Linked DNA regions of Homo sapiens. The protein of the gene in region 1 interacts with the protein of each later gene in a biochemical or structural test. Each region holds a gene or a part of one and is shown on either strand. Other genes may lie near its edges.

Region 1 (11,585 bases):
CGGGGGCGAGGGTGTGTGCGGACACGTGTGTACGGGTGTGTGTGTGTGTGTACGCCGACACGTCGGTGCGGACCGACGCGGGGGTGTCAGGAGCTGGGACGGCCGGGGGCAGGTGAGACTTGAGTCATTTGTGAATGTGTGGAGTGGGCAAACCAGGGCAACCAGACCGAGAGGAGCATGTGTAACCTGAAACAGGTGAGCCTATGGAGACAGTACCTAATGCGACTGTGCACGGAATATGTGTATGCAGCATGAGCTCCAGGGAATAAGTATTTGAACTTTGCTGTTGGTCTGTCACTGTTTCTGGCTGCTTTCTGATTGCATTTTACATCAGCTTTCAAATGAGCTCAATTAGGAAGTACCTAATTCAGAGAAAAGCCTTCCAGGATTTTGCTTGCATTCATCACGCATAGAATGCTTTGGGAAAGACGATTCAAGAGCTCTCTTCCATTTGTATGTGTCTTCTGGCTCTTTCCACAAATAAGAAGCTATTTCTAGAACCTTTTATTTGATGATTAGATAAGATCAAGTGAGCTGATTTTTCAACTCTAGACTTGAGAGAAATGAAAAAATAAAAAGTTTTAAATGCGGTGATCGGGTATCATGTTTTAGTCGGCAGATTACTGTGAAGCTCTCTCCTTTTGTACTTTCCTTTACCCTGGGGGAGGAGGGAGTAGCATTATAAATCAGAAAAGCAAAGTACATGGATTGCATATCCTAAAGCAAAATAATTGAATTACATATTTTACATCATGGTCGTACCGCCTTCGAGGCTAGGAACTTTCTGTAAAAAGTATAATGCAGGGAACAAGGAGGACAGGTTAGAAACCTCTTTGGCAGAACTCCTTTGGCATGAAAAACAAAATTAGCACATTAGCACTAGCATCCAGTTCTTGTTCAGTAAGTAGCTGGAGTTTACTTTTTGAAAAAGAAACAGGGATTTCAGAATGTTCCATGTTGTGTGCTTGAAGCCATTCGTTATAGCATTTCATTCTGAAGACCAAATTTAAATTTCTTAAGATTTGTATGACCAATTAAAAACTTTTTTTATACTTAATGAGAGTAGTAGTACCCCTACTGGAGACACAAGATAGTTATGCTTCAGTTTTATAAGTAAAAGTACTATTCTCCAGATCGAATGGGATTTTCTGCATAGAGAGGTAGAAATAAAGTTATGACAATATCTTTTCTTTCGAGATGGGGGGTCTCGCTCTGTTGCACAGGCTGGAGTGCACTGGTGCGATCTCGGCTCACTGCAACCTCCGCCTCCCAGGCTCAAGCGAATCTGCCACCTTACCCTCCAAAGTAGCTGGGACCACAGGCGTGCACCACCATGCCCAGCTAATTTTTTGTAGTTTTTGGTTTCGCCAAAAGACGAAACGGGGTTTTGCCATGTTGCTCAGGCTGATCTCCAACCCCTGGGCTCAGGCTGTCCACCCGCCTGGGCCTCCTAAAGTGCTTGACAAAAATATCTTAAAATCATGGAGGACTTTTTCTTTTGAGATACTTTAGGTATCTCTCTGAGATGATCTCTTCTCATTTTGCATGATGGAGGATGTGGTAATGAAAAGGGAAAGACCGGGTGCAGTGACTGGCTGGGCGCAGTGGCTCACACCTGTAATCCCAGCACTTTGGGCGGCTTGAGACGGGTGGATCACTTGAGGTCAGGAGTTGGAGACCAGCCTGACCAACATGGTGAAACCCCTTCTCTACTAAAAATAGAAAAATTAGCTGGGCGTGGTGGCGGGCGCCTGTAATTCCAGCTACTTGGGAGGCTGAGGCAGGAGAATCGCTTGAACCTGGGAGGCAGAGGTTGCAGTGAGCCGAGATCGGCCACTGCACTCCAGCCTGGGTGAAAGAGCCAGACTCTGTCTCAAAAAAAAAAAAAAAAAAAAAAAGAAAAGGAATGAAAGGAGACAGTCTTCATAACAGTTGTGGCAAAACAAGCTGCTATGTGTCATACATGGAAAAATAAAGAAAATAGACAAAATTTAATTATTTTCCAAAATTTTCTCTAACAAAAATGGGAGATTTTAAAGTAATTCCATTTTTACTACTCCCTATCAAATGTCAGGAATTTTTATAAGGTGATATCTATATCTCTAGTTCACTTTTAGAGGTGATTGATGTCTTTATAACTGGTTAGAGGTTATCTTACTGGTATTTAACCAAACTCCTGTCTTGAGATACAATGCGTGGGGAATATTCAAGATTGAGTAATTTAAAGATATTCTTATTTTCAGAGGTTAACTCCTGTCTTTTTGTTTACAGTAACATGAAGACACAACAGAGTTCCATACTAATGTTATTTATTATTTCTTTAACTTGCAGAACTGCAAGGTGTGGAATATTTCTGGCTTCTAGTCCAATGCCAAGTGTGTGACCTGTGGTGAGTTACTTAATTTTTCTGGACCTCAGTTTTTCATCTTGTAAATGGAGTCCTTTACATGCATTATCCTGTTTAATACTCTCATCAACTCAAGCTAGGGTAGCTACCTAGAGAGGGACCTAAACAAATCTCAGTGCCTTCCTGCTGCTCTAAGATAGTGAAGAGAACAAGGTGAGCCCAAGAAGTAGGAGACCTGGTTTCTGGTCTCTGCTTCAAGCACTTAATTCTTTTTTTTTTTTTTTTTTTTTTTTTTTGAGAGGGAGTCTGGCTGTCGCCCACGCTGGAGTGCAGTGGCGGGATCTCGGCTCACTGCAGGCTCCGCCCCCCGGGGTTCATGCCATTCTCCTGCCTCAGCCTCCCGAGTAGCTGGGACTACAGGTGCCCACCACCTCGCCCAGCTAATTTTTTGTATTTTTAGTAGAGACGGGGTTTCACTGTGTTAGCCAGGATGGTCTTGATCTCCTGACCTCGTGATCCGCCTGCCTCGGCCTTCCAAAGTGTTAGGATTACAGGCGTGAGCCACCGCGCCTGGCCAAGCACTTAATTCTTAGTGGACCAAAGTTACTTGGCCTCTGAAGGCCTTAGCTGCCATTAAAATGAATTTAGGAATGTAAGTCTTTTGCTTAGAGGTTAGATCAAATGGACTTTTAATAAGGTGGTAAATTTGATAATATAACTCTGTCCCCTTTAGACATTTACTCCATTTAGAAATAGTACTTGTTGGTGGCAGGGACATGTGTTTCTGTGTAAGTGAACTGGTTTTATTATTACTCAGGGTGGGGGATCTTTAACATTATCTGGAAAATAAAAGTGGTTACAAGTTGAGGTGGTGGAAATTCAGGTTTTCTAAGAATGGGGGTCAGTTCACTAGGCATTTATCAAGCCTCTGCTGTGCTCTTGTACTCTGCTGAGAATGGAAGGCACAAAGATGAGTAAAACCTGGTTCCTTCATGGAGAAACTCCCAGTCTGCACGTTGGCAGGGTGTTAGTGGAGGAGGTAGGAGAAGCAGCCATACTGCCTCAACAGCGCTTTGCATTTTTGTTTGTTTTGTGAAGTATTTGTAAGCATAAAATAATGCATGTCATATATGTTAAGAAACAACAATAAAAGGACAGAAGCAGAATATCAGCCATGCTATTGAAATGTCTCCCTTTGTGCTCCTTCCAGATTGTTCCCTCTATTCCTACTGCCTCCACAATCATTACCCGCTATTTTGTGTTTGTGATTTGCTTTTCTTCATAGCTTTGTTACCACTGATGATTCTTAATCTCCAAATAATATATTTGTTATAGTTGTGTTTGAATTTTGTAAAAATGCATCATACTCTGAATTCTTCTGTGACTCAACACTTTTTAAGATTTAGTTACAATGATGCTTATAGATGGAGTTTATTTTTTACTGCTGTACAGTGTTCTGTTTTATGCATGTGCCACACTATCTGTTTTCTTATTGATGGATATTTGTTTTTTGTTTTTTTCCTATTTCAAATAATGCTGGAATGAACATTCTTATACGTGTATCTTGGTGCATATGTTCATGAGTTTCTCACTGCATTGGACTGTAAGATAGCCACTAGTCACCTAGGGCTACTTACATTAAAATTTATTAAAATAAAATATTAACTATTTCAGTTCTTCACTTGTATTAGTCACATTTCAAGTACTCAATAGCCACATATACCTACTGGCTACCATAGTGGACAGTGCAAATATATAGCATTTCCATTATCACAGAAAGTTCCAAGTTTCCAGATTTTACTCATCTTTGTATCTCCATTTATTAGTATAGTACAGGAGCACCATAGATGCTTAATAAGTTGGATAATGCTGGTCATATGCCCAGCAGTGAAATTACTGTGTGGGGAGGTATCCACATCTTCATCTTCACTGGAGAATGCCAACTTGTTTTGCCAAGTGCTTATGCCAGTTTATATTCCCACCAGCTGTCTATGAGGGCCCTGGCTGTTGTATATCCTTGACTTGGTATTGTTAGACTTTTCAATTCTTGCCAGTCTCGTTGGTGTCTTTTGAAGGCAGTCCACAGCTTAAGCAGACTGCAGAGAAGTCATTCTTCCAGCTTCACAAAGCCTAGCACCAGGTAGTGAAGAAGGCACCACCTTAGAGGGGATGATCCGGGGAAGGGTAGGAGTGTTTCCTGTGTTGGCTGAGGGGGTCAGAGGACCAAAGTCCAGCTAAAGTGGAGGAGAGAGAAAACAGCAAGGAGTGGATTCACGTTGTTGAAAACTTCTCTTTGCCTTCTATGACATTTCTGTCTTTGGTAGGAACATTTTTGATAATAAGGCAAGTCATTAAAATGAATCTTCTTTGTTACCAGAGTTAATTCTGCATTTTAGTTTTGGCCCTACATTTATTTAAAGCCTGAATTTGGGGAGTATCTGCAAAGCACTGAAGGTTTTGGACATTGTCTTTTCCTGCTGTTGAAAGAGACCCTCTTCATATATACAACATTCAGGTAATTGCTTCTAAGCTTACTTGAAAGGAAGCTTATCCCTATTTTAAATGAGATTAGAAGTCCTGCCTGAGTGTTATTTTGGTCTCAGTGCCTTTCAAACAAAGGGATAAGAATGAGTTGTTAGGCTGCTGTGTGCATAGTCGCATAGTCTTATCATAAGACAAAGTTTAGGAACTGAAGGTTGTCGTTTAGCATTCAACTCACTAGAGCTAGTAAAAAGAGATTTATCTCCCCACCGCCCTCCACCCATGCCCTCTCCAGAATTTAAAAGCAAATGCACACAAAAAAACTTCCTCCTATCAACCTCAAATCCCTTTCATGAAAGTTATGGCAGATGGTTGTGATGCTACTTTGCTGTAGTGCAGATTTGGCAGAATGCAGCTAGTGCTAATTGCAGTGAGGAAGACAGGAGTCACAATCCCATCCTCTTTTGGGAATTGTCCTGTCTGCTGAAATCTCAAAGAAGAGCACTAGGAGTAGGAGTAACATTGACTAAAGCAGCTGACATTTACTGGTCACTTACTACTACATGCCAGGCACCATGCTAAGCCCTTTTTACATGCATTTTCTCATTAATCCTCACAACACTCTAGCACCTTCTCCTGATTTTGGAGCTTAAGGTGGGTAAACATCTTTCCTCAGGTTTCACAGCTAACGTGGTTAATGTAGGGCTTGGATTTTAGTTCCTTTGACCCTTAAGCTCTGCTAAGATTATCTTGAATCTCTTACCAAGAATAGATGAGAAGGACTCAGGAAAGTGCCAGGTTGACATTGAGAGAAAGTTGTACTTCAAAAGTAGTCCTTCCTTTTGTTTTGTCATGGGGAAATAAGAGGCAGGAAATGCAGCCAAGCGGGGCTGGTGTAGGTGCTGAGGGAAGTGTAGTCCTATATTTTGCAGCGAATTTCATAATTGTGTATTTTGAAGGAAAATAAAAGATTCTGCTCTTCTAGGAGCAAGCAAGAGAGTGAATGAGGAAAAATGGGTGTAAGGACCTTGGAGATCAAAATGCCCAGCGATGCAGACCGTTGCTGAAACTAGACCTTTAAAGTCATGGACATCAGCAGCTACAAGATTTAGGGGTCCAACTGGAGTGTACTTTGAAGTGAAAGCTGTGCTAATGGCTGGCTTCTCTCCAATGTGTTGAACTTCTCTCCTGAAAGCTAGATGATTTTAGTTGCTTTTTTCTTTAGTTCCGGCAGAGCATTGTGATGACCTAGGCCGTATTTATAGTTAGGATTGATAGTTTATTTACAGATACACATCTTTTTTGTGGTTGCTATTTAATTCTCTTGGTGGGCAGTTTTTATTTGACCAATTGAAGATTCCATTACTGTAACTCAGTTGGAAGAATTTTTGAAGTTTTCTTGAACAATAGTCCTTTTTATTATCTTTTTTCATAAATTGTTTTTACTAGTCAGTCAGGGATGAGGCCATACTTCAGGCTGTTTACACAGGATTGTGCTTGGCCAAAGCACCCAGAACTCAGATGACTCTCAAGGACTGACTCGTGCCAGATAAACTACAAAAAAAGCTGATAGACCCAGGACGCCAAATTAATAATGAGAATTAGAAATCCTAATAAGACTGAGATGCTTTGGTTACCTGGTCACAGTATTCTATCCCTGTAGTAGAATCTGCCCTAGAAACCAAGTTATTTAAGGTTGCTTGCTAAGCAAGGCAATTGGTTGGGTGAATTTAGTGACAACTGTTATGGAATCTGATCCACCCATCCACTTTTAGGAAAGAATTACTTAGCGGGTCAGATAGCCAGGTTGACTGATCAGGGTCCCTGTTTTCTCTGGAGAGTGGTGCAGACACATTGGGAAGTCTGGCCTTTTGGTTATCTACTTTCTAAGCTCCTTACTATACAGCACAGCATAGTGTCTCTTTCTTTTCCTTTACTTCATCTTTTTTTTGTTAGTTTCACTTTCTTCATCTGTAAATTAGAGATAATGGCAGTACCTGTCTCATAGAAGATGAAATGAGCCAACATCTGTGAAGCACATAGAAAAGTACCAGACTCAGAGTAAGCTCAAATCAGGTCTTATCTGCTGTTATTATTAATAATGTCATTATTAATATTATCAGTCAGGAGTTTCTTTTTATTGCAAGTGAAAGAAACCTGATTCAAACAAGCATAAATAAATAAGCTTAAGTAAACAAAGAAGGGACTTGTTATACTCTGTATATAGTTAGGTTCTGTAAAGTCATGGTGAATACCATATTAGTGAATACAGAGCCATTGTTTCTGAGGAAATACAGGATTAGGTTCTTGTAGGCTGTGGTCAAGAGATTTTTATCAGCCAGCTGACGCATAACCTTTTTTTATGTGTGTTTCTGTCTAGACAGCCTATTTAATATATATTTCTTACTAATATACACAATATTTCTTGGTAATAAAACACTAGTTGAGAAGGGTTTAACATTTTCTTGACCCTGTGTAATGTGACAGTGTTTTTGGCTTTCAGCCTCACATCAGTGCTATCCACTGTGATTTTTATTTTTTATGGGTTGTCATCTCATGAATCCACAGATTTAATTGCTTTTCCATTGTATCTATAGCTTCATTATGTACTCTGGATATTACTTTAGCTCTCTCCAGGGGAGGCCTCACATACAGATCAGCAGATTTCCTGTTCCATATTTTGGATGTACCCGCTTGTTGATTCATTAACATTGAACTCACAGCCAACACTATAACTCATGCATGAAAGAAACTTACCTAATACACATTTTTTTCTCTGTAAGGCACATCACAACCTTCTTGCACCTAAGAACACTAGAAGGTAGGAGAGATAAGACAAATTTATGAAATACTAAAAACGAAAAAATCCATTAATGTGGATAATAGCAATTGAGCAAGTTGGGAAAAATAAATTATTTCTAGATTATGTGAGCTTGCTGGTCTATTAGTGTATCATTAGACCACCAACCACCACCACCACTACCCTGCCAGTTTTTCATTTTATTTCTACTTCCCTCTCCACAATATTTGTAGTTAATTCAAAGAATAACATTTAATCTTAATACTTTTTTAGTGTAGAGTCTAGACAAGGAATAAAAATCTTGGGAAGAAGCAGAACTTTCTGTGTAAGACAGCAAATTGAGATTCAGTTTTATATTTTATTTTGGGCCTTTTCATGCCTTTCCTGAAAGCCTCAAGAGTTCAAAGCATACCTCAGGATTACAATAAGGCAGTTTTAAAATTGGTATATACCAATTAAGGCCATTGAGTTAAATCCAAAGTACTGTAATTGTTGTCAAGAGAGGTTGAAAGTACGAGCTTCCTCTGTGTTGTAATCTTTAATTTGTAGCCATTTGGGCATGCTTTTATCTTGGGAGAAAAGAGTTTGTCATTTTAAAAGCTGACTTTGCATAGAAGAGCCAATTAGCTGTCTCCTTCATATGTTGACAGTTCTCTCCTGTAGATTGGCTGATATATTCAGCTTTGATGTGTTCGCCTAGTATTATAATTCAAAGTAAGTCTTCACCATTTCTGTTAGAATCCATCCTCTTTTCATTAGGATGAAATGAATGTACCAATGAAAAGATTAGGGAAGACACCTTTGAAGTCTGCAATCTTGTCTTGAAATCCTGATATTTTGACCTGTAGGACCTAGAACAGTGATTCTTAATATGGAGAGACTAGCATGTTTAAGAAGTATGATTAGAAAAGGATATTCAGGGGCCGGGCGCGGTGGCTTACGCCTGTAATCCCAGCACTTTGGGAGGCCGAGGCGGGCGGATCACGAGGTCAGGAGATCGAGACCATCCCGGCTAAAACGGTGAAACCCCGTCTCTACTAAAAATACAAAAAATTAGCCGGGCGTAGTGGCGGGCGCCTGTAGTCCCAGCTACTTGGGAGGCTGAGGCAGGAGAATGGCGTGAACCCGGGAGGCGGAGCTTGCAGTGAGCCGAGATCCCGCCACTGCACTCCAGCCTGGGCGACAGAGCGAGACTCCGTCTCAAAAAAAAAAAAAAAAAAGAAAAGGATATTCAGAATTATAATTAAAATGTATATTTGGAAACCGGCTGGGCTCCGTGGCTCACACCTGTGATCCAAGCACTTTGGGAGGCCAAGGCGGGCTAATTACTTGAGGTCAGGAGTTCAAGACCAGCCTGCCCAACATGGCGAAACCCTGTCTCTACTAAAATACCAAAAAAATAGTGGGGTGTGGTGGCACACGCCTGTAATCCCAGCTACTTGAGAGACTGAGGCAGGAGAATTACTTGAACCTGTGAGGCGTAGGTTGCAGTGAGCTGAGATTGCGCCACTGCACTCCAGCCTGGGAGACAGAGCGAGACTTGGTCTCCAAAAAAAAAAAAAAAAAAAAAAAAGTATGTTTGGAAACTGAAATGTAATCTGAATGTCCTTAAGACCAATCTTCTGCATTGCTTGTTTGTTTTTAAGATGGGTCTCGCTCTATTACCCAGGCTGGAGTGCAGCAGTGCGATCACAGCTCACTGAAACCTTGACCTCCTAGGCTCAAACGATCCTCTCACCCCAGCACCCCAAGTAGCTGGGACTACAGGTGTGTCCTACCACACTTGGCTGATTTTATTTTATTTTTTGTGGAGATAAGGTCTCACTGTGTTGCCCAGGCTGGTCTCAAACTCCTGGGCTTAAGCTGTCCTCTCACCTTGGCCTCCCAAAGTGTTAGGATCACAGGTGTGAGCCACTGTGCCTGGTCACTGTTTTCTTTCATATCCAGATAAAGTGATTCAAACCCAAGGCGATGCTGATTAGAGATTTAGCGTCTTTCTCAAATTTCTAAGAATTTCCGAAGGGAAGAAGAATGTTTAGGTTCTCTTATCATGCCTCATCCAAAACTCTTGCTCAGTTGTCAGTCTTCAGGAGGGGCTCTGAGGGCTTATTTTCAAGGTTCTTTTTATTCATGCTTGGCAAAATACAGTTATTGTAAGGGTGTTGTGTCTTAACTTTGATAGAAGGTTTGGGATTCTCAAAAGTAGTTACAGAACAGGCAACAAGTTCAAACTTGAGTGTTAGACACCACTGTTCTCAAAATTCATCTGCTGTTCTCTGCCACGGAGAATCTACTGTTTACTGGCCAGGTTCCAAACTTGCAGCCATATTACAGGCTTCAATCGCTTTCTCTTTTTTTTTTTTTTTTTTTTGAGGTGGAGTTTTGCTCTTGTTGCCCAGGCTGGAGTGCAGTGGCGCCATCTTGGCTCACTGCAACCTCTGCCTCCTGGGTTCAAGCGATTCTTGTGCCTCAGCCTCCCGAGTAGCTGGGATTATGGGCACCCGCCACCACGCCCCACTAATTTTTGTATTTTTAGTAGAGATGCGGTTTCACCATGTTGGTCAGGCTGGTCTCGAACTCCTTCCTCAGGTGATCCATCTGCCTCAGCCTCCCAAAGTGCTGGGATTACAGGTGTGAGCCACCATGCCCGGCCAATCGCTCTCTCTTAATTTGCTATCTTAAATAGGAGCATCTACTGTTTTATAAGGCATGCTTGGGATTTCCCCCGTCTCCTTTCGTCTCTAAATCTTGGACCTTTCTTTCAAAACCAGAGAGGTGCATGGGGTATTTTCCTTGACAGAAGATCCACCCACTTAAGATTTCCAACTTTATCAATAGTCAGAACTTTTGAAGTTATAATATTTCATTTCTGATCAAAGCATTAGATAAAGCTTCCCCTCTTATGTCTTTGTAAGCAAAAATAATATATTGAAATAATTGATACCTTTCCCATATTAAACTCTAGGGGTTGTTCCCTCCTCCTTTCTGTTGTAGAAAAAATACTTTTGTGCCTATTATGTTGGTAATAACAATTCTCACAATTAAACTCAAGAAAGCCTTGTTGGCTGATGTGGACCTGCAGAGGCAGTAGACATGTAGCAAGAGAAAGGAAATTTAAAGACAATTAAAAAATCTTTACTGAGATATAATTCACATACCATAAAATTTACTTTTTTTTTTTTTTGATACTGAATTTTGCTCTTATTGCCCAAGCTGGAGTGCAATGGCGTGACCTCAGCTCACTGCAACCTCTGCCTCCCGGATTCAAGCGATTCTCCTACCTCAGCCTCCCGAGTAGCTGGATTACAGGCATGCGCCACCGCGCCTGGCTGATTTTGTATTTTTAGTAGAGATGGGGTCTCCCCATGTTGGTCAGGCTGGTGTGGAACTCCCGACCTCAGGTGGTCCGCCCGCCTTGACCTCCCAAAGTGCTGGGATTACAGGCATGAGCCACTACGCCTGGCCTAAAATTTACCTATTTAAAGTATAAAATTTAGGGGTTTTTAGTATATTTACCATGTTTTAAAACCATCACCACAACCTAAATTTAGAACATTTTACCACTTTCCAAAAGGGCAGGTACAGTCACTCTCCATTCTCCTCTTTCCCTCCAGTCCTAGGCAGACACTAGTCTATTTTCTAGTCTATTTTCTATTGCCTGTTCTATACATTTCATGTAAACGGAATCATATAATTTGTGGACTTTTGTGACTGGATTCTTTTACTTAGCATAATATATTTACCGTTCATCCATATTGCAGCCAAATAATATCCCATTGTATAGATATACCATGTTTTATTTAACCATTCATCAGTTGATGGACATTTTGGTTATTTCCTTTCAATATGTATAATGCTGTTGTGAACATTCCTTTATAAGTTTTTGTGTGGACGTAGTCTTGCAGTTCTCTTGGGTTTATAACTAGTAGTGAAATTGCTGGATCACATGGTATCTCT
Region 2 (11,441 bases), on another chromosome or scaffold:
AGTTTTACTCTGCATATGGATTTGCCTTTCTTGCCTGCAGTGCTTCTGCTAAAATCTCATCTCAATTTACAGAATGCCTCGTTCCTGTCATAGTATCTCACACTGCATCACTTCTGACTAGAAAACTAATTTTACAGGCAAAGTAACAAGGCAGTGCAACACCCAGATAATTCGCTGGCTCACGTACCCTATCATTCCAAAACAGCTTGCCTCTGTGGATCAGCCTAGTGAAGACTCAAATATGGCACCTGCTGAATGGTACTTTGTTGGCCTGGAGTGCTGTTTTTTGCAGGTTACAATATATTTCAATATATGATGCTATTTTTCCTATAGGTAGAATACACAGGTCTAGGAACTAAAGTTAGTGGCTCTTCTCATGATTACCCTTAATGATCCTGTAACAAATATTTGCTTCTAGTCCTCGCAACATTGGGCCCTATTGCTTTAGAGGTTTTCTATTTCCAAAGAAAGACTGCTTCCATCTGAGAACACAAGGATTCCCATGAAACAGGTAAAAATTATAAAAAGACTTTAAGCTCAAGGAATTCAATGAACATATCTAAACATTCAAATAATATACTACTTATTTGAATTCAATTAACATATCTCAGCATTCAAATGATATACTACTTATTTGAATTCAATTAACATATCTAAACATTCAAATAATATACTACTTATTTGAAGAATATACTAGAATTTAATAGTCACAGTTTTGGCAATTCACTAATAATCCAAAGGTCTACAATATATACTTTATGTGTCTATAGTAATTAGTCTTCCTTCTGGAAAATGGTTTTCAAATGACAGGTAAAACTGTAGTAAATGCAGAAACGGCATTTAACTTGTGGTGAAGTTCATATCAACACAGAACTTTCTAAAGAAATATGATTCCAGAGAGTGCTAAAGTCTGAATAAGCATTTCTGTATGAATTTGGGGATTCCCAAAGGTCTATCTGGATGCATTTATAATTTTCAACATCACTCAGTCCCGGACATCTATAACTACTTTTGGGAGAAGTAATGTAAATGAGCAATTCTAATCCAAGCTAATCTTGAAAGAGAAGTTAGGAGACAATTTTTCTTTCATTCTGAACTTATTTTAAAACACATAAAATTAAAACTATAAATATTAATACGTTTTGTTTCCTGTTTACTTTTTAATTATCATAATGAACAGAATACATATTTCTCTTTAGCCAACTGCCGAACTGGCACTCAAAATATTGAATTCAGCAAACATAAAGGATTACACACGCCAAATAATGAGTAGATATTTAATCAAGGCACTTGGTTAGGTAAGTGAAGACCACCATAGCACAATAAATATAAATAGAAAGGCCCACAGAACTTTTGTTTTTGAGACAGGGTCCCACTCTGTCGCCCAGGCTAGAGTGCAGTGGAGTGATCACAGCTTAGTGCAGCCTTGACCTCCCAAGGCTCAAGTGATCCTCCCACCTCAGCCTCTGGGTCTGCTGGGACTACAGCTGTGTACACCACCATGCCTCGCTAATTTTTTTTTTTCTGTATTTTGTAAAGATGGCGTCTCACCACATTGCCCAGGTTGGAGAACTAGTTTTTTAAACAATTAACAGAAATAAGTTATTTTTCTATGCTGACTTGAAAATGAAGAGCAGAGAAATACTGAATACTTTCTATGCCAGGCGTTGTTGTATTAACTAATTAAACCTCAAAATGATCCCATGAGGCGTTATTATTTATGTCTCTGCTTTATAAAGAAAGAAATGGAAGCAAAACAGGTTAAGTAACTTGTCAACCAAGGTCACACAGCTATTAAGTGCCAAAGTAAGACTAGGACCAGGCCTGCCTGGCTTAAATCATCCTCTTATCCACTTTGCAGTGCGGAGTACATACCAAGGGTTGGGACAAGGGTGAAGTAAGACACTTGTCTTGGGTGCAAAATTAAAGAAGGCACCAAAAAAACCTCAGTGATCAGATAGGCATTTTAATGCAATATTTTAAAAAATTAGAATTAATGCAAAAATCCTATGATAAAATACCAAAATTCTAAATAAAGATGGGATCAGAATTAATTTTCTTTGCGCCTTGAGCTCCTATATGGCTTGTCATTGTTACTAGTTCTGTCTTTATTTAAAATTTTGTGCCTGAGGCAAGAGCCTCCCTCACTTCATTTGCCTCATCCTAGTCTAGGACCCAAACCAAATTTTTCCTTTAAGTCTTGAGCTCCAATCAATGACTGGCTAACCTTATCATAGTATAATAGTAATTATCTGAACTGCTGATACCATCTTTCTGAAACATGCAACAGGCAAAAGCATTCTATATTGAATGAATATTACTGAATATAATTAATATTGAATAGTCAAAGCTTTCATACTTTAAGACGAAAAGAGAAACCCAATTTTGACAACATTCTACGCTCAACTTTAGCCTGCTGTACTATCTCTACCACATTCAGTAATCACATATACATTTAACAAATATTTTTCGAGCACCTACTATGTACCACATCAAAGTTGGTGCTCCAACAATAATGAAATGATTAAGTAGAATTTTTACATAGGAAAAGGGGGAAACAGAACAGCACTTTTTGGTACGTATCTACTTATGGAGTTCTTAATGGGGTACATTTTCTCATTTAATCCTCCTATTATCACTATTTTGTAGATGAGAAAACAGGCTCAGAAAGGTGTATAACTTGTCCAAAATCATCCAACTAGAAAGTGACAGAACTAGATCCAAACCCAGATCTACCTGGTTAAAAAAACCCACTTGCAAGACAATTCAAATTTCTACAAAGACTTCAAAGCAACCTAGAAAACATTTATGACAAGTAGGAAAGTGAAAATATAAAAGTGTTTACTAGATTAAAACCACAAAAAAGTATGTTTGCATGTGGACAAACAGCAAAAGGAAATCATTGCGTAAGTGCAGTTGATAGCAACATTAAAAGAAATTTATACAATACAACAAAGGGTACAGAAAAAAATCAGTTTAAGTCGGATAAAACAAATACCAGTGTCAACTTTGTATTTTTCACTATGTAAAATGAGCAGAAATGAGTTTGATATATGGTATGCTTGATACAGAAATTGAAGACTTTCAAGAAAAGCTTTAGTTATAAGTAATCTGAGCTTCCACATCCTATAAGGTCAATTATTTTGTTATCATCAATACTTCAAACAACAAAATGCTATCATTAAATATGACCTACCCAAATGTATAACTGGAACTAAAACTTGAAATTTACATACATAATTTAGCAAAAGGTCATAGCATGGTCACTAAGTATAATTTAACCAATTATATAGTTTTTGTGTTTTCTTCACCATACTCAGTGACCAGGTACTTTATCCTTTATATTTATGGCTTTCAACTTATTTCTCTACTTAAGAATGTCAAGTTCTGACTAACATTCATTAATGCAAAAACTTGGTAGGAACATGAATTTCAGTAGTTTCTTGAATGTCTCAGGTCTGATCAGTGAAAAGAAACAAAACATCCAGGAGGGATGTTTTAAATTAGAACAAGAAATATTTTACAACAGAGAGAATAGTACTTTTACTAAACATTGGACTTAATTGCAATATGCAGTCACTTGGCCTGAGAACACTAATAAGTATTTGACTTTTTAAAAAATGCAAGAATGTGAAAAAAATAGCAAACTAGCAATAATCCTAGAAAAGTACATGTGTTAAACATCACTATTTCTCCAATTTCTAAGATAGCTGGTGCCTAATAATTGGTTAGAAAAACCTACAAAACTACTCTTGGGTTTTGTCAAATTATTACTGATAGTACAAAGTATTTGCACCTTGAAGAAACAAGCAACATTCTAAAGAAAATCAGTGCTTACTTGATAATCATTTCTCTTAATATTTGGAACATCCATGTTGTGAGTAGAAGGACAAATATCTTCATATTTTTTGCCCGTGAAAATATCAATTCCAACAAGGTGAACCTAACAGAGGAGAACAGGAAACCTGTTTAATCTCTGCCAAGTATATCACTCATTACACACACAAGAGCACAATACCAATGCTGATTACAACAGATTCTTTTTCTCCTCCTTCCAAGGTCATCTAATTTTACTTAAAAAAAAATGTAGTGGTCTTACAATTAAGAGGCAGTAAACAACTAAACAGTATCACGACATGTCAAGACCCAATATAGACCAGTGATTCAATTATGAGATTACACAAGAAAAATAAAGTGTAGATTTCTTAGAATTGCTAGAACAGGTTTTCTCATCTGTAAACTAAATAGATCTTATAGGTCACTAGGATTCAGGAAAGTTTCAGTTCCCAGTTAATGAACATTGTAAGGGCCCAAGAAGGGAATGCTACCTTTAAGTATTCAACGTAATAACTGATTACCCAGTAATTGTGGGAAGGAAAAAATAGTGCTTATTACAAAATTTTAAGTATAGAAATCTCATGATCTGTAACGGAATACAAATGATCAAAGTCCCAACGCCGAAGCCAAAGCCTGATCTGCAAGGGTACTTACCTTGGCATGACCATGCTTTCCAGTTTTGGAAGTTGACATCTCCACTATTTTGCATGGTCGTCCTTTGAGCACCACGAAGCCGTTTTTGCGCAAGGCCGAGCACTGCATAGGGTAAGTGCTGGAAGCCCCGGCATCTCCAGTAGTGAAATCAATTTCGTCTGCCATGGTGGGCAGGGGAGATGGTAGTTTTTCCGTGGGAACTACACAAAAAGTTTGTGTTTGCTTTTTAACAACGGGTATGTAGGCAGGGAAACGTCTCATTTCGGACAAGTTATGTGCCAAGCATCATGGGCCCGTTATTTCTGCATGTAAGGAACACCCACCCTAGACTAGTGGCCACTTTCTAACTCTGGCCTCTACAAACTTTTCCAGCTACTGCTTGGGGAGGTGGGATGAGAAGTCGCAGAGGAGCTCGCTGAGGGTGGGGACACCCGCCCTGGGCGCTCCTCCGTGCTGGAAACAGCAGGTTGCGGCCCCCATCGCCCCACCGCAGAAGCCGGCGACCTTCCCCCGCCGCCCAGCCCTCGGCCGCCGCCCCGAACCCTACTGCGGGGGACCCAGCCCAGGCCGCAGGTCCCCGCGAAGGATGCGGGGTAACAGAACCTGGCCAGCAGCACCCGGCCCTCTGCTAGCTGGCGCGCACCCCGCCCTCCACCCTTCAACGTCGCCGCCGCGGCCGCACAGGCGCCCCCTGTTCTGCCGGCATCCAGGGCTCAGCTCGGCCCGGCCCGGCCCCACTAGGGCCTGAGCCCCGGCGGGTCCCGCGCTCGCCTCTGTTCCCCCATCCATTCTCCTTCTTTCTCTCGGTCAGCGCTCAGTTCTGGGCGCCTTCCCCGGCCCTGCCTCACTCTGGCCCCATCCCCACCAGCTTTTCCCCACCAGCTTTTCCCCAGGTCTTCACCTTTCAGCTGGCAAAGAGCGCCTTTCGTCTGCGCACCCGCGCTGGTCCCCTACAGCAGCGGCGCCGGCAGCGGCGGTGGCGGCCGCGGCAGTTCCAAGAGACGGGGCGGGGCCGCCACACTTTCCACACCCCAGCCTCCCCGCCCTTACCCGCCCCCACTCAGCCCTATTTCCGGGATAGGCCCCGGAGCGTCACAGGCACCGCCCTCTCGGGCTACCATTGGCTACCAGATTCCCGAGGCTCCGCCCAGTCACGTGAAGAGCGCCCTGGCAACCCCACGTGCTGCGGATTAGTGCACTTCCGGCGTGGAGCGCACTTTCAGCAGTCTGGTTGCCGAGGGTGAGCTCGCTGGCAGAGGAACTTGCGCCTTCCAACTCTTAGGTTTGTTGCGTTCGGGTCGCAGTCGACTTTAATGGGAACCAAGCAAAGCACCCAATGGCCCCTGCCATCAGGTGCGTGGCAGTTATCACATGACGATCGTCAGAACTCGCGAGGCGCGCAGATTCAGCGAGTGCCAGTGTGGCTGGCTGTGAAGCGAACTTTGGGTTCGAGCTTCTGGTTCAGCTTGCAGCCTTTCTTGGGGTTCGAACCTCCTCCTGGTCCTTAAAGAAGAATTCAGGTGCAGTATTTTATTACCCAGCTCGGCACCGCAGGTCCTGAGGACCCCCCATTCACCCCTTGGTGAGATTTTTGGCAGCGACTGCCGCCGGATGCCCCTGTAGAGTCAGCACTGCTCCCTGGGGTGGGAACTCCCGAAGCGTCCGCCAGCTAACAAGCCAGCAGTGAAATGAATTAACCCACTTCTCACACCAAAGGCTGTTGGGAAGTTGTGGAGGCGAAGGGTGTCTGACTCCTACGGCATTGTGGGTCCAGAGAGGTGTTCTGCCGACTCATCCATTCTTTCCTCCTGGCATTGGCATTCCTTAGAGTTTGGGGTTTAACCCTGGCACATTAGAACGCTTGGATGGTCTTCAAAATTGACCTAGAGCTTGTAGACTGCCATAGAAAGGTTCTTAAAAGAGATGTGCTCCCCCTTCACAGTTTCATTTCGCAACCTACCGCAGTATCCTATCTTGGGGAGGTGATCTAGGAAATTATTTCCCATCCCACACCCGCATTTATGTGGTAACTTTGATTTCCTATTGCTGTCTCATGAATAATCCCATATCTCACATTCCTGTATGACTCTACAGTTTACACATATCTTTCAAACAGGTCCAATTTAACTTTCGCAATAAGTTACTGCCCTCTCATGTACTGAATTCAGCCTCTAGCTAATATACAAAGGAGCCATTACAGCAGTGGCTCATGCCTGTAATCCCAGCACGTTGGGAGGCTGAGGCAGGTGGGTTCCCTGAGCTCAGGAGTTCGAGATCAGCCTGGGCAGCATCGTGAAACCCCGTCTCTACCAAAAATACGAAAACTTAGCTGGGCATGGTGCTGTGCACCTGTGGTCCCAGCTACTAGGGAGGTTGAGGTGGGAGGATCACTTGAGCCTGGGAGGTGGAGACTGCAGTGAGCCGAGATCCGGCCACTGTACTCCAACCTGGCTGACAGAGTGAGACCACCCCCCCCACCCCCAACACCCCAAAAAGAAAGAGCCAGATTAGAATCTTGGTTCATTAGCTCTTTCTGCTTTTCCTTATACCTCCTAACTTTTCCCTATTGTTTTTACAATGATCGCTAATAGTATTTAGTATTTATATAGGCAGGTAGTGTACTAAATTTTTGATGTGCATTATTCCTTTGTTTGTCACTGCTGCTTTCTATTTTTAACCTTGTTAAGTTATTCATATAAAGAAAAATTTGTCCCTTTTCTTTTTATGAGTTTTGAAAAACATATCTTGATCATCTGCTATGATCAAGATATGGAATATTTCCCTCATTCCAAAAGTTTTCTAGTGGCTTTTTGTTCTCAGTTTCCTCCCTCTACACCCAGCCCCTGGCAAATATTAACAGTACTTTTTTAACCTGCATTTTTAGTTACGGAAAAAGGAGAAAAGCAATTTGCCCCAGATTACAAAGCTAGTAAGTTGGAAAACCAAGGTTGGAACCTAGGCAGTTTGGTTCCAGAGTCACTGCTCTACCTACCACCATATACTGCATTCACAAAAGATTTGGGTTTGGAATCAAATGACTGAGCATTACTCATTCAATAAATACAGTCAGTTCTCCTGAAGTCAGTAAGAACACTGAATTGGCAAATACTAAACCATTGCTCCTAGGGGAAATACAGGGTTAGGTTCCTCTGAGCCTCTGGGCCACAACATTGGTTAATATGTGATTTTTAGTGTGTTTCCATTTAAAGACACCTGATTTCCTATATATTGTTGGTTCATTAACATTAAACTCATGGCCAACAGCAATGTAATTCATACCTGAAGGTAGCTTATCTAACATATGCTCTCTGTAAGGCACACTGTAGCTTTCTTGTGTTTTGGAACATTAGACAGCTCTTCAGCACAGTGCTTGGGGGCCATTTTGAATGGTGAAATCACCAACAAAAAGCACAACAATGCAAAAACTGGCAATAAATAGACTGAAAAGAATACTGGTTAACAGTTTGACGACTGAAACAAGAAGGCAGAGCATGGCTGAGTTTGACCTCAGCTAAATGTGCGTTAGATGGCACGAGTCTCTGTGCATGTTCACAAATGACTTCAAAAGCACTGCAAGTATTGATTTTAAGATTATAAGTAAATTATGTCAAGTATGCAAATTTGCAAATATGGAATCCAAAAATAATGAAGATTGACTATGTGTACTTTAGCAGCCTTACCTCTGGTATTACTGTGTTGACCAAGACAGCCTCTGGTTCCTAAGGTGCTTGCAGTCTATTGCAGAAGACAGTCTAGTAATTTTAAAATATGAAACAAATGCTAGTAAAGAAATAACTATAAGGCACTGAAAAAAGGGGCTTATTTAGGCTAGGTGGTGTCCAATTAAAATATGATACAAGCCACATATAGTTTTGAGTTTTCTTTTAGACACATAAAGTTAAAAAATGAAACTAATTTCAATAGTATATTCTGTTTAACTGAATATGTCCAAAATATTATTTCACATGTAACCAATATAAAAATATTACTAAGATATTTTACTTTTTATCCATACTAAGCCTTCAAAATCTGGTGTATTTTACACTTTCAGTACATCTAAATTCAGACTAGCTATAATTCAAGTGCTCAATAACTAGGCATAGTTGGTGGCTATCATATTGGGCATCATAGGTCTAGAAGGTTCAGGAACTGCTTCTCTCGGGGGATATCAGTTTGAGATTTGAAAGACAAATAGAAGTTAGCAATGGAGAGGAGTTTAGAAAGGGCACTTTAGGCAAAGGAAATGGGGTTACAGAGGTGTATTGTGACAGAATCGTGGCACCATTTGTACTGTAAATGGCGTAGTATGATGGTGTGTACTGTAAAGATGGGTGAATTCGGACTTTCTCCCAAGGGCAATAGAGAAGCATTGAGACAGTACATACAAGAAAATGATAAATTTTTTATTATTTTTAAATTTTTTTAATTAAATTTTTTTTTGAGATGGAGTGTCGCTGTGTTGCTCCAGGCTGGAGTGCAGTGGTGTGATCTCGGCTCATTGCAACCTCCACCTCCCAGGTTCAAGCCATTCTCCTGCCTCAGCCTCCCGAGTAGCTGGGAGTATAGGTGCCTGCCACTACGCCTGGCTAATTTTTTTTTTTTTATGTATTTTTAGTAGAAACGGGGTTTCACCATGTTAGCCAGAATGGTCTTAATCTCCTGACCTTATGATCTGCCTGCCTCAGCCTCCCAAAGTGCTGGGATTACAGGTGTAAGCCACTGTGCCTGGCCTTTTTTTTTTTTTTTTTTTAATTTAGACTATTCTAGTTGTGATATGGAGTATTTTTTAGGAGGAGAAAATATTGGAAGTAGGAAATCAATTAGACATAATAATGTTGAACAAACATGATGAATGAGAAGATTGCAGAGTTATAAGGGAAAATGGAAAAAATGTCATAATTAATTGAATGTTAAGGGTCAAAATGGGGAGGCACAGAGTACGAAGAACAGAAAAGAGTCAAATTAAGACTCAACAGTTTATGGTGTAAAAATCTGGGTGAATGGTGGTGAATTTTCATTGAGATAGAAAATAGAGGAGAAACAGTTTGTGAGGAAAGTCGAGTTCACTTTTGGGCAGATCAAGTTTAAGGTTCCTATGGGAAAGGGAACTATCTGAAGTAGAGATACATGTTTATGAATCAGTATATAGGTGATGATTAAAGCTATGAAAGTGGAATATTTAGAGGAAGAATGCGCAATGAAAAAAGAGGAGTGAAAAATAGAGCCCTGTGCTATTTAAAGGATCACCAGTGGAAGAGGAGAATGAGAAAGAACATTGTATTTCTTAGGGTTTTTTGGTTACAAGCGACAGAAAACAGTTCCTACCAATTTAAGTAAAAAGCACGTCTTTATAGGAATGATATGGAATAACTACAGGTTTGAAAGGAAGCCTGAAAGGACAGAAACTGTGCAACTTTAGAGTTTCTGTAGCAAGAACCATTGTATAGTCTCATCTGATGCTGTTAGAATTAACAACCTACAAGTGTTAATACAAAGTCTAAGAGTTAAAGTTCTGGAAGATGAAATTCTGGTTGCTCTAGCGTTCATTTCCTGTCCACCCCTTGACAAGGCGCCTTGCTCCAATAGTCCTGTTTCTACCTCTTGCAAACCAAAAGTATCTGGGACAGATCTCAATCAATTTAGAAAGTTTATTTTGCCAAGGTTAAGGATGCACCTGTGATACAGCTTCAGGCGGTCCTAATGACATGTAACCAAGGTGGTCAAGGTACAGCTTGATTTTATACATTTTTTTTTTTTTTGAGATGGAGTCTCACTCTGTCGCTCAGGCTGGAGTGCAGTGGCACGATCTGGGCTCACTGCAAGCTCCGCCTCCCGGGTTCACGCCATTCTCCTGCCTCAGCCTCCCCAGTAGCTGGGACTACAGGCGCTTGCCACCATGCCTGGCTAATTTTTTTGTACTTTTAGTAGAGACGGGGTTTCACCATGTTAGCCAGGATGGTCTCGATCTCCTGACCTTGTAATCCACCCGCCTCGGCCTCCCAAAGTGCTGGGATTACAGGCGTGAGCCACCGCGCCCTGCTGATTTTATACATTTTTGGGAGACTTGAAATGTCAGTCAATACATGTAAGTCGTACATTGTTTCAGTCTGAAAAGACAGGACAGCTCAAAGTCGGGTGGGGTTGGTGGTGGGGTGGGGCTTCCAGGTCATAGGTAGATAAAAGACAAATGGTTGCATTCTTCTGAGTCTTTAATCAACCTTTCACTGAGTACACAATTTACATGTGAGAGGAGTTTAGAGGAATAGTTATTTATGCCTTAGAGTGGCTCAGTGAATCTTCGTTTTTACATGAACAGTAGGGCCTAGGAAGCAATCAGATAAGTATTTGTCTCAGTTGAGCAGAGGGATGACTTTAAGTTCTGTTTTTTGTCCCTCACCTGTGAGGATAAGCTATCAATTTACTTTGCCAGGGTGAAAATCAGCAGAACTGTTTTAGGGTAAAGATCATGAGGTCCACGAGGAATTTTCTTGGGGGCAAATTGTGAGGGAGGTTTGTAGCTTTTTTATCTTTGTAGCTATCTTATTTAGGAATAAAATGGGAAGCAGGTTTGCCTGATGCAGTTTCCAGCTTGACTTTTCCCTTTCGCTTGGTGAGATTTATTTTCCTTTCACACTCTGCTTTATATAAAGGAGGTTCGACCATGTTGACTTCTTTTTAAATGGAATAGCACTGGATTTAGAATAGCATTAACCAAACCAGCAAACTGTCTGACATAGCTGCACAAAAATACAATGACACATATACCTACATCAGCAAATTAAGCCTGATTTAATTTTATTGATCTGATCTCTACGGTTGAGCACCCTCCGTTTCTAAAATAATTTTAGTATTTTTGACCGTATAAATCAACAAATGCCTGTAACTCATTTTGTGGCCAAACTTTCACTGTCAGGTAGTTTAATTTCAATTTCAGGTAGTTTAATTTGACT

The links.
Region 2: the proteins of HERC3 (region 1) and EIF5A2 form a complex in vitro, tested with the Homo sapiens proteins (one study listed by BioGRID).

Annotation. Positions count from the first base shown.
Region 1 is NC_000004.12:88,593,226-88,604,810, forward strand, and holds part of HERC3 (probable E3 ubiquitin-protein ligase HERC3), read left to right. Parts: intron 1-2,331; 5' UTR 2,332-2,389; intron 2,390-4,724; exon of another isoform or gene 4,725-4,862; intron 4,863-11,585. UniProt on the Homo sapiens protein: E3 ubiquitin-protein ligase which accepts ubiquitin from an E2 ubiquitin-conjugating enzyme in the form of a thioester and then directly transfers the ubiquitin to targeted substrates.
Region 2 is NC_000003.12:170,903,151-170,914,591, forward strand, and holds the start of EIF5A2 (eukaryotic translation initiation factor 5A-2), read right to left. Parts: upstream 5,488-11,441; 5' UTR 5,393-5,487; intron 4,692-5,392; 5' UTR 4,657-4,691; coding exon 4,492-4,656; intron 3,944-4,491; coding exon 3,839-3,943; intron 1-3,838. UniProt on the Homo sapiens protein: Translation factor that promotes translation elongation and termination, particularly upon ribosome stalling at specific amino acid sequence contexts.